Linked DNA regions of Homo sapiens: region 1 is linked to region 2. Evidence: fine-mapped expression QTL. Tissue or cell type: sun-exposed skin. Region 2 holds a variant in brackets; the other region holds the start of a gene. All regions are shown on one strand. Distances are between the middles of the regions.

Region 1 (5,372 bases), 56 kb before region 2:
TCTAGTTCATATCACTCCAGCTTTATTGTCCTCTCTGCTGTTGCTCCAAAATGCCAACAATGGTATAAACTTGGTTTTCCCTCTTCCTGGAACAATGGCATATGGCTTGTCTCTCAAATGACATCTTATCAATGAGGCCTTCTCTGAGAAGCATAAGTAAAAGACTACCCACCTACACATATACATTCCTTATCCTCCTTATCTCCTTGATTTTTATTGAAGTTACTTACCACTTTCTGACTTATTCTAAACTTGCATGTTTGTTTTTCTATCTTTCTCAGTAGAAAGTAAGTTCCTGAGAACGTGGATTTTGTCTGTTAGCTTAGAAGAGTGCTTTGGACATAGGTGCTGAAAAATTATTTTCCGAATGAATGAATAAACTATTGGTTCAGGAGGCAAGAATTTGGGATCAGACATAAGATAACCCTAATTTGACTCCTGGCTCTGCTATTTCCTAACTATGTCCAAGTACATAGGGTACTTAACCATGCTTTACATTTTCTCGTCTATCAAATAGTGATTGTAATAATTTCAACTCCTAAGACTGATGTAAGAATTAAATTTAAAAAGTATGTAATGTGCTTAATAGACAGTGACTTGGTATAAAAGTGCTCAGTATATGACAGTGTTATTAATATGGAAAGATGATCTAGATTTCGACACAAAAGCCCTCAGTTATGACTAGATACTCACTGTATGATTTTAGGTTACTCACCTCTTTTACACTAACTCACTTGATAAATCAGGAACTGGGGCCAAAAAGATGGCTAAGTTGCAGCCCCTTCCCTCAAGTCTTAGTAATGTGATCTTGGGTAGGTCACTTAACCTCTCTGAGCCTGTTTCCTACGCTGTCCAAAGGGGGATAATATAATACCTCACAGCTTTGTTGTGAGGATTAAATGAGTTACTGTGTGGGAATTGTGTCTAGCACATAGTAACCTCTCACTGCGTTAGCTATGATTATGATTCCAGTCTGGAGGAAGGGTAAAAGCATGTAAGCAAAGAACTGCAATACAGTGCAATAAGAGCAAAAGCAGGCATCAACTAGAAGAACGTCTCCTAAACTAGAGTCTGCCCACAACTAGGAAGTTATACCACGATCAGGAAATTTTAAAACCCTCTTATGTCTATAACTTAACTCCCTACCATCACCCCCGTGGCAGTAAGAAAAACAAAATTTCTCTGCTGCTTTGATACCTGGGATTTAAAACTTAAAAAAAAAATAGGGTCAAGGTTTAGAGTCTCAGATAGTGTTTTGTTTTGTTTCAGAGAAGAGTCTCGCTCCATCGCCCAGGCTGGAGTGCAGTGGCACGATCATAGCTCACTGTAACCTCTAACTCCTGGGCTCAAGGTATCCTCTCGCGTAGCTGGAACTGCAGGTGAGCGTCACCATGCCTGGCTAATTTTCGCTGTTACCCAGGCTGGTCTTGAACTCCAGTCCTCAAGCTATCCTCTCGCCTCGGCCTCCCAAAGGGTTGGGATTACAAGCAAGAGACGTTGCGCCAGGCCTCAAATAGTGTGTCTCAACATGAGGTCAACAGACACATTGGGAAGGCTAAGTTAGTTCCCTCCACCTTTTCCCTAAAGTTAACACCTCACTTAAGTTCGAAAAAGTCAACTGGACCCGCAGACGGCAAAAGCAGCACGTAATAATACCCTGAGTGAGAACCCACTTAAGAGCCGAGAGCCCAAATGTGTGTTTCATGACGGCGCTGTTACAGACTAAAAGGTCAAAACAGGACATTAAAGGGTGCTCCGGGGGGCTGAGTAGGAGCTCACCAGGTGAGAAAGGGGATGTCACTTTCGGACAGAGAACGAGCGCCAGGGCGTGGAGGCGTGAAAAGGGCACGTGGGTGGCTTGGAAGAACCAAAACTAAGTGTTTTGGGGGACAGCCAGAGAGCCGAACACATATGGAGGAAAGATGCGGCCTGGGGCCCGCCAGATTAGAAAGGAAATCCCCCTCCCATATCCAGATCATGATCTCTCAGACTCAATGTCCCCTCAGGATACCCCTCTACAGGGTCCCAGCTGCTGGGCTCCCTCTGGTTCCCGCCACTCTTCCCTTACCTCGTCTTCCAGCCTTTCTCTCACTCTCCCGCCTCCTCTGCCTCGCCGGAAGTGACGCGCTAAGTAGCGCGCCGTATCGCGCCAGAAAGGTTCCGAGGGAGCGGGAAAAAGGGTTCCGGCGAGATCCACTGCGCCGGTGTGCAGGCTCGAGCGGTCAAAGCTCTTTCCGGGGGCCCGGGGAACTACTCTCCTTGCCTCGCTCTGTCTCCTTCGAAGTGCTCTGCGCGAGGTTCAGAGCGGCCGCCGCCTCCAAAGGGACGGTTTTCTAGAGCTCCGACGCCTCTCGGTGCCCCTCTGCTCCGGCCCTTGCCCTTTGACCTCGCTCTCGCGGCAGGGTGAGAGGTCGGGTGGCCATCTTGTGGCGGCGGCGCGGGCGGCTGTTACTGCGGAGACCCATCCCCTCCCCCTTCTCGCACCCCTGGCAGTCTGTCAGTCGGTAAAAAGTCCCGCAGCCTGTCAGGTGAGGCCCCGGCCTCGTGCCGTCGCTCTTCCCGCCGCACTGGGCGGCCCAGGCCGCTCCCTGCCGGGCCTCACTGCCGCCACCATGTCCTCCTTCTCTGAGTCGGCGCTGGAGAAGAAGCTCTCGGAGCTGAGCAACTCTCAGCAGAGCGTGCAGACCCTGTCCCTTTGGCTCATCCACCACCGCAAGCACGCGGGACCCATCGTCTCCGTGTGGCACCGCGAGCTCCGCAAAGGTAAACACCAAATCCCCACCCCCTGGACGGTCCCCGGATTGTCCTCTCGCCCACATACAACCTAGGCCCCTCTAAGCCTCTTCATTGAGCCTTGCTTTCCAGGCCTGATCGAGCTTCTGAGATGGGAGACAAAGTTAGCCCCATTTCTCGAAGAAGGAAACTGAGGCCCGGGAAGGTTTAAGGTACTTGCCTGAGGGTCCACGGACTGGGACTCAGGTGTCCAGACTTCTAGTTCATCAAGCCATTTTCCCTTCAGTTTCCCCCTGACATTTGTGGCTGTTATTATCTCGGCTGCATTCACTGCCGTACTGGCCCTAGCATGTCGGGCCCAGTGCTGGGTATTTGGAGTAAAAGCCAGTGGGCTCCGGAGTCAGACTCTGCAGATCGAGTCCTGGCTCAGCTATTTGCCAGCTGAATAATACTGGGAGAGTTTCTTCATCTCCCTGTGTCTCCGTTTTCTCATCTGTAAGAGGGAGGCAAGGATAGCTACCCCTTACAAAGCCTTTACTTCATACCAGTCACTATACTAAGACCTTTGTGTGTATCCTCGCACTCAGTCCTTAGAACAGCCCTGTGAAGTAGGTAGTCTCTCCCATCTTAGGTTAAGGGGCCACCCAGACCTTACCTCTCCTCTCCTCTCCTCTCTCATGCAGTTGTCATTGATTTCAGGCCCTGCTCAGGTTCTGACAGACAATTCATTGAACTCATTCTGTTATGTGCCAGGCACTGGCTTGGACACTTGCAGCATGTTGCCTCTGCCAACTGCCTAGAATTTAAGCCTGACTTTGCCGCCTTACTGACCCCAGCAACTTAACCTGTCTGTGCCTTAATTTTCTTATCTACAGAATGGATAACTGAAATTTACTATGTCTTTATTACATGCGAAGTGCAGTACTGATATCTTTACATACATTGCCATTAAAAAAAATTCTCGGAGCCCTATGAAGTAGGAACTTTGCAGAAGAGGAAAAACTGAGACTCATCTCGTGGTGAGGAGTAAACGGGATAATCCAAATGAACATTTAGCATGGGGTGAGGCACAGTGTAGGCATTCAGCAGATTATGGTGAGATGAGACTTTTGATTACTCACTGTGAGGCATGGTCTTTACCTTCAAGTTGCTTACAGTCTGGTGGGGAAAGATGGACACCTACACTCCCGGATGAGTTTCATAATGGAAGACTGAAGAAATGAAGCTCAGAGCTGCTCCAGACACCCTATATGTGGTAGGCCTTTATAGCGAAGTGGCTTTACAAGTGTTCTATACTATCTGTGAGTTGGGGACACCACAGATGTCCTGCTCTACAGGTGAGGAAACTGAAGTGGCTAAGTGGTATTTTCAAGGCTTTCGAACTGAACAGGCTCAGACTACAACAGGCTGGCAAACACCAAAATCTTCATGATTTTTTTCAGGAGACCCAGTTCTAGCCCTTTAGCAGGGACTGCCCCCAAATATCGCGTACTGTACTGAGATAGGGATCCCCTCAGCCCTTCGGGCAGTTCCGGGAAGAGGTAGAGCCTGGAGTTTATGGGGCCTTCTTCATGTACCCCACTGTGCCATTCAGAAATTATTTGAAGAGTGTGCTGAAATGTGAATTGCCACTGTACAGAATTCTATTGGGTGGGACCTCAAGAGGCAGTTAAAGTCCATCTCAGGTGTCATTTTTTTTGTTTTTTTTTTTTTGAGATGGGGGTCTCGCTCTGTCACCCAGGCTGAAGTGCAGTGGTGCGATCTCAGCTCACTGCAAGCTCCACCTCCCGGGTTCATGCCATTCTCCTGCCTCAGCCTCCCGAGTAGCTGGAACTACAGGGGCCCGCCACCACACCCAGCTAATTTTTTGTATTTTTAGTAGAGATGGGGTTTCACTGTGTTAGCCAGGATGGTCTTGATCTCCTGACCTTGTGATGCCCCCGCCTCGGCCTCCCAAAGTGCTGGTATTACAGGTGTGAGCCACCACGCCTGGCCAAGTGTCACTTCTTTTGTGACACTTTCTTGATTCCTTGCCTCACCCTAGTTGAGTTACTGAAAAAAAGCAAATTAGAGAGTACATTTGTGTATGAAGCTCCGTTATCCCTAATCTTACGTGGTAAAGCCTTATGTTGCAAGTAGGCTAGCATTATTATCCTCATTTTATAGATGAGATGATAAAGGTATAGAGGGATTAAGTGCCTTGTCCACAGACATACAGCTAGGACATGAGCCCAGGGCTGCCTGATGCCAAAATGTGTTCTTTTTCATGTACTCAGTGCCTCAATGCATTTAATAAGTGAAGGTGGTCACCTGACTGCAATCAAACTGTGGTGCTTTCATTTATTAGAATTAATGAGTGCCTCCCACCCCATCATACCAGTTTAGCATTTAATTTGTTCCTACTAGCTGTTCATTTGAACTGGTTACATCTTTGTCATTAGATTATGTTTTGAGAGAGGAACTAGACCTTCTTGTTTATTTGCAACACCACAGGATATCGCGTGGTGCCTGTTATATAGTTTAAAAATAGGAATTAAATCATGGTCTCTGATAGAATTTTCGTGGTTGAGTAAAGGATCTAAACAGCGCTATCCAATACAACTTTCTATGATAGCAGCATAAAGGATATAAACAGCGCT
Region 2 (5,372 bases):
CCTTCAACTGAAGGGCTCCCTAGTTGCCAAGAGTGGTTGGTTCTGAGTCGAGGTGGCTTTGATTTGTCAGCTTTGGTCAGAGAATTCAGGCAGGGGGCAGGAAGTCCGTGTTCTGTAGTTGTTTTGTTATTTTACCCTTTTTATACCTTCCATTCAGGAGAAGTTTATTAGATGAATCCGTGTCCAGAAATAGAGAATTAGTTGCCTTCATCCTTTATATTAATTTCCCTTGAAGTATAAACAGCCAAAGAAGAAAAGTACTTGTGGGAGAAAGGGGGTTCAGATCCTCAAATTTGAAAATAGTTTTCAACTTCAGGAACGTGAAAGGTGACTGTTAACCAAAGTCTGAGTCTCAGGAGCTACTTCATGTGGTATGCTTTTACCTGATGTTATGTTTTAGATATGGCTCATTCATTCGGCACATGTGCTGGGTGCCTACTGTTTGCTGGACACTGCGGAGCCTGGTGGATGCTGGGGGAAGCAGATGGGTCTGGTCCTGGCCTCCAGGAGCTTACTAGTTAAATGTGGGAGTCATTGCTAATCATTTACGTAAGTCATTGTTTAATTTTAGTTGTGGTAAGTTTACAAAGAAAAGAAATGGGCTGCTAGGAGAGCTCACTCTCTACCCTTTTCTCTTCCTTTGTAGACTGTGTGAGGAGCTCTCATTGCGGGTGGGAGACTGATTGCCTGCAGTAATGGGGAGAGGATATGCCTGGTTCCCTCCTCTCACTCCTTGCTTGGACTTTTGTCTTTACAACTTGAACTAAGTATTCTCCATTTGACCTTTTTCCTGCCTCATTATTCTTCCCAGACATTCTCTAGCTTCTACTTTCTGCCTCTTCAGGTGTGCATCAGGGATCTGGTATCAAGGAATTTAGAACTTGAAAAGAAGTGTTATGGTCCAGTTCCCTCACTTTCAGATATGGAAGAAGGGAACACATCCACGGTCACACAGCAGGTTAGAGGCAGAACCAGGACCAAGCCTAGGTCTCTGCATCTCAGCCCAGGGCTTCTTGTTACATTCCTGCAGGAAGGGCTTTCTAAGTCAGCAGGGGCCCAGCGTCAGGGACCTACTTACCCTTGCAGAGACACTGAGAGGACAAAAACTAAGCCCCAAGGGGGCCAACAGCCCCAGACTTCACATGGCCTAGGGTTGTTTTCTATATATCTTGGCAGATTTATCAAGAGTACCTTTTTCCGGGAGCTGAGGAAAGAAAAAAAATATGCCCCATTCCTATCATTAGGGGATTCATATTCTAGAGGAACATAGAAGTCTCACATGTATGGAGAGAGCATAGAGCAGCTTGCTAGGGGCTCAGGTACACACCCTGTGTGAGGGAGAGCTCTGGAGCAGGAGGAGATGCGGAGTCGTCTCCTGGATGCAGAGCAAGGATTTTCCTAGAGAGGTGGAGTCCAGATAGTCCAAGGAGCAGAGGAGTGGAGGCCAGGCTTTGCTAGGGCTAGGAGAAGAGAGAGACCCCCTCCAGGCTTGCGGGGAATCCTGAAAAAATGGTCCACACAGACAAAGAGGGTTAGGAGGTTGTGAGGCAGGGGCTGATTTTGTAAGACCTTGAACTCTGCTCTGAAGGACCAGATCATGGAGCTAGTGGGGTGCCGTGCCTCACTTTCTCAAGGGAGTGGTTTCATGAAAGCTGGGCTTTTGGGAGAGAAGTCTGGTGGCATTTTAGGAGCCCTAGGGGTCAGGAGGCCTAACCAGGGACTTACTGCAGTGACTCAGTTATGGAATGAGGAGGCCCTGGTCACAGGGAGTAGCAGTGGGGTATTTTGAGCTTCTATAGTGCTTGTTTGCAAAACATGATAAATTTAGGTTAATCTCCAAGCTTTAACATAGGAAGTATAACTTCAGTGTTTTTTTTCTTGCCATATCTAGGTGGAGTCCGCAAAGAAATTGTGAGGCTCAGGTGTCTGTTTTATTTTATAAAGCATTTTGAAACTTTTGAGAACCAACAAAAAGAGAATGCAAATACCAAGTGTTATTTCTTTCTACTTCCAAATCTCAAGCCCTAAATTGAATACCATTTAATTCACTGTTGCCAATATGGCACTCTGCGTTCCTTTTTTGATAGAAAGTTTTGCCTTTTGAGCATTTGAAGCCCTAGCTTTGTGATATAGCTGAACAGGGTGGGCAGGCTGGTGGGGACAAGGAAGAACACGAGGACGAGAGTAGCTGCCC[G/A]GCTCCAGCAGCACCCATGCCCTCGGCACGCACAGACTTAACGGTATTGTCTTCTCTTTATCTCCTTAGGAATACAAACAGAAGCTTGCACGAGTAACCCAGGTCCGCAAGGAACTGAAATCCCATATTCAGAGCTTGCCAGACCTCTCACTGCTGCCCAACGTCACAGGGGGCTTAGCCCCCCTGCCCTCTGCTGGGGACCTGTTTTCAACTGACTAGGATGGGTGTCATGTCCCAGATTTCTGTTTGTACCAGCAGAAAGAAGAGGGCAAGTCATGGTTGGAAATAACCTTCTAGCCCCTGGTTCTATCCCTTCTTCCGCCCAGCCCCCCAGCCTCAAGAAAGAACCTCAGACTCTGATTCTCCTCTTCAGCCTCTCATCTTGAGCACAGTTCAGAACAGTGGCGACTGGAATCTGGTTTATATTCATATTTGCAAAGACTACAGACTTTTTCTCCCACTTCATATTTTCATGCCCCCCTGTTGGTTTTCCATTCTTAACTGTCTCCTTATACCTAAGAAGTTATGAAAATCATGTGTACTTCTGGAAGCTTTCGAAAGAATCTTGTCCCTCATGACAGCATTTTATCATGAAAGCAGCTTCTCCTTTCTGGGCTGGGCTTGTTCAAGTTCGGTGTGGGCTTCCACTAAGGCACTTGTCCTGGAGACGTTGGCTTTCCCAGCTGCATCTGCCCCAAAAGGTTGTAGGCACAGCTGTCGTAGCGTTGCCATAAAGAGTTTGCCAAATCTCTGATCCTCCCTTTCCATTGCTTCTCCTAGTGATGCACGAAGATTAGGTGCATTTATTTTGTAAACAGATTGGAGAATCTAGCAATAAGATTCAAAGCTAATCTGGAGCATAAAGGCACAGTTCAGAGACAGAATAACAGGGATCACAAGCATGAATTAAAAGGAATTTATTTGCTTCAAGTTCCTAGATACAACCTTCCCATGCTGCACTTCTCCACTGTCGGAGCACGTTCCGAAAAACAGAATGCCTTGATCCCTGGTGGGTGCGAAGGCAGTTGTTAGGGATGGCAGGCATTGGTGGGCTCCAAAAGATGAAGGCCCCACACACAGGTGTGCTGCATTTGGGATCTGTGTGGGTGTTTCTTGGACCCTTTCTTCTGGGAGTAGGGTACACACTAACGTTTAATCCGCTGTCTGGGTGCATGTCCACAGTACGGTGGCTAAACTCGAACATCACTGCAAATAGGACGCTGAGCAGGTCCGTCTGTCATGTCACGCCACTGCACAGGTCCTTGTCCCCACACGACGGGGAGTACTTGCGTCAGATGTTATTGAATAGCTCGTCTCGGGCAGGGGAAGCGGGGAGTTGGGGATATTAATTGGGGGTTTTAATTCTATTATCATGTCAGCTGACATTATGACTATATAATGTAGTTAGAGACAATTTTTATCTTGCTTATAGTAAAGGTTCAGCCTGCCAATTGTAAATCATTCTAATTTGGCAGGCTTATTTTTGACATTGGAAAGGGCAGAAAGCGATTTGCCCCAGTAGTGTAATAGGAGTTATAGACCAGAGGCTGAAACCCAAACTATATAAAAAGGAATTCAGTGGAGGGGGCTTTGTAATCTCCATTAATTTGTGTTGCTACTTCCAGGATCACCAAAAATTACATGTAATTTTACATGTTAAACACATTGAAACATAACCTATGTTTATAAAGCATAACGGGCTTCCCTTCCAGAAGCTCTCCTGCTTGTCATGAAGTGAGAACAATGAAAAGTCATAGCAGATACTCAGTTTAACTCTGTGTAGAACCTAGTAGTGTTTGAGCTGTTATTCAGATTTGAATTCAGACTGTGTGTTGTTTGCTTATGGACACTGCCTGTCGTTCTGTCACTGTTAAATTAATGAGTCTATAAGGTTTTTCTTCCAGAGGCCATAGGTGACATCACTAAAATTGCAAGATAAATTGTAATCTTTGCTGCTGCTGCACTCCCCAACCTCTCCCCCACCCCCCGTGGTGTGCTGCTTTCTAGATGAGCGTGTTTTGGAGCAGGCCCATCTGGGACACTCTATGCTTTCACCAAGGAAGTGCGATCTGAGCAGCCACAATCCAGCCAAAAGAGGATCGTAGATATTTGCTCTGATCAACTAGATGAAAATATAGCAGAATGGATTTAGCCCACTGCTCTGTTTTATCCAACTGAGTCTCTGACCAGCAATTGGTGCATAATTATTACAGCAAAAGTTAAGAAATGAAACTGTAGCAATTATGTAAATGAATGTGTTGGCCTCTTAATACCTGTTACTAGTGGACTTCCTGTGAGGAAGTTAGTTTTTTGTTTTGATGAAATGCTTTCGTTTTTTAAATCTTAATTCTGCTGTCCACATCCTCCCAAAGTGTGCTTACTTCATTTGTTTAATTTAAATGAACTTTCCTCCTTGTATGTATGAGGTGACTTGGTGGGTGGGGTGGGTGGTTTTTGTTTTTGTGTTTTTTCTTTCTTAGGGCATCTGTAGGCCTCAAAGGACCTTTCCTTTAGGTCATATTCCTCAGAAAGTCTTCAATCTTCCCTTGTTTTTGTTTGTTTGTTTTTCTTAAAGAATATTTTCAAAGCTTAAATTTGTATATTAATTTAGGACTATTTAGAAGTATAGGCTGTCGTTGGCGGCAGCAGTATATTCTGAAATGTCTCATAGATATATATTTTTGAATAAAGATGGTGTTGTTGAACAACATTGTGTGATTTTTTTTTTAAACTACCCTGTTACTGAAAACAGTGCCTTTCTTTGTAAGCAGTGGGTGATTAGTAATCACCAATAGAGAATGTGCTGTCGGCACAGAATCTTGTCCCTTGGGAGTTTTTGTGTCTGTTAGCGGCACATAAATACTCAGCATTTACGTAGTATTTTCTGGTTCTTTCCAGGGGCTTAATTAGCTTTAATTAGGCAGTCCACACAGTACCCATGAGAGGTGCCGCCATAGTTTTACCCTCATTGTACAGAAGTGGGAACTGATGGAGAGAGATTAAATGACTCTTCCCCCATACTTCACAGCCAATCTCTGACAGATTAAAACTTGGAAGTTCTTTGATTTTAGCGCCTTTGTTCACACCAGTAGGCCTCCTGAGAGCGATTTGATTTTGGCAGTACACGGAAAGCCACGCTGAACAGTAAAAAGACGAAAAATGTGAGATAATTGCGAAC

Alleles and levels. Alleles are on the strand shown, and positions count from the first base shown. SD is a standard deviation of normalised expression in the study named.
With allele G in place of A in region 2, the expression in sun-exposed skin of the gene that starts at base 2,411 in region 1 is lower (moderate effect, 0.45 SD a copy in GTEx).

What was found.
Region 1: RPRD1B starts here. The variant in region 2 is fine-mapped to the expression of RPRD1B in sun-exposed skin (GTEx, PIP 0.97).

The regions. Positions count from the first base shown.
Region 1 is chr20:38,031,336-38,036,707 of GRCh38, forward strand. RPRD1B (regulation of nuclear pre-mRNA domain containing 1B) reads left to right here and starts at 2,411. Exons shown (of 7, transcript NM_021215.4): 1 at 2,411-2,763. The coding sequence starts at 2,613. It overlaps TTI1 (TELO2 interacting protein 1), which reads right to left and starts at 2,121. Exons shown (of 8, transcript NM_001303457.2): 1 at 2,069-2,121. LOC124904898 (a long non-coding RNA gene) reads left to right here and starts at 2,771. Exons shown (of 2, transcript XR_007067579.1): 1 at 2,771-4,070. RefSeq lists enhancers at 1,852-2,447, 1,978-2,247, 2,448-3,043.
Region 2 is chr20:38,087,463-38,092,834 of GRCh38, forward strand. RPRD1B (regulation of nuclear pre-mRNA domain containing 1B) reads left to right here. Exons shown (of 7, transcript NM_021215.4): 7 at 2,264-4,902. The coding sequence ends at 2,413. It overlaps LOC124904897 (a long non-coding RNA gene), which reads left to right. Exons shown (of 4, transcript XR_007067578.1): 3 at 401-549; 4 at 647-958. Among named protein-coding and RNA genes, the nearest start is that of RPRD1B, 56 kb to the left of the region's middle. The variant G/A (reference allele first, on the strand shown) is at 2,195.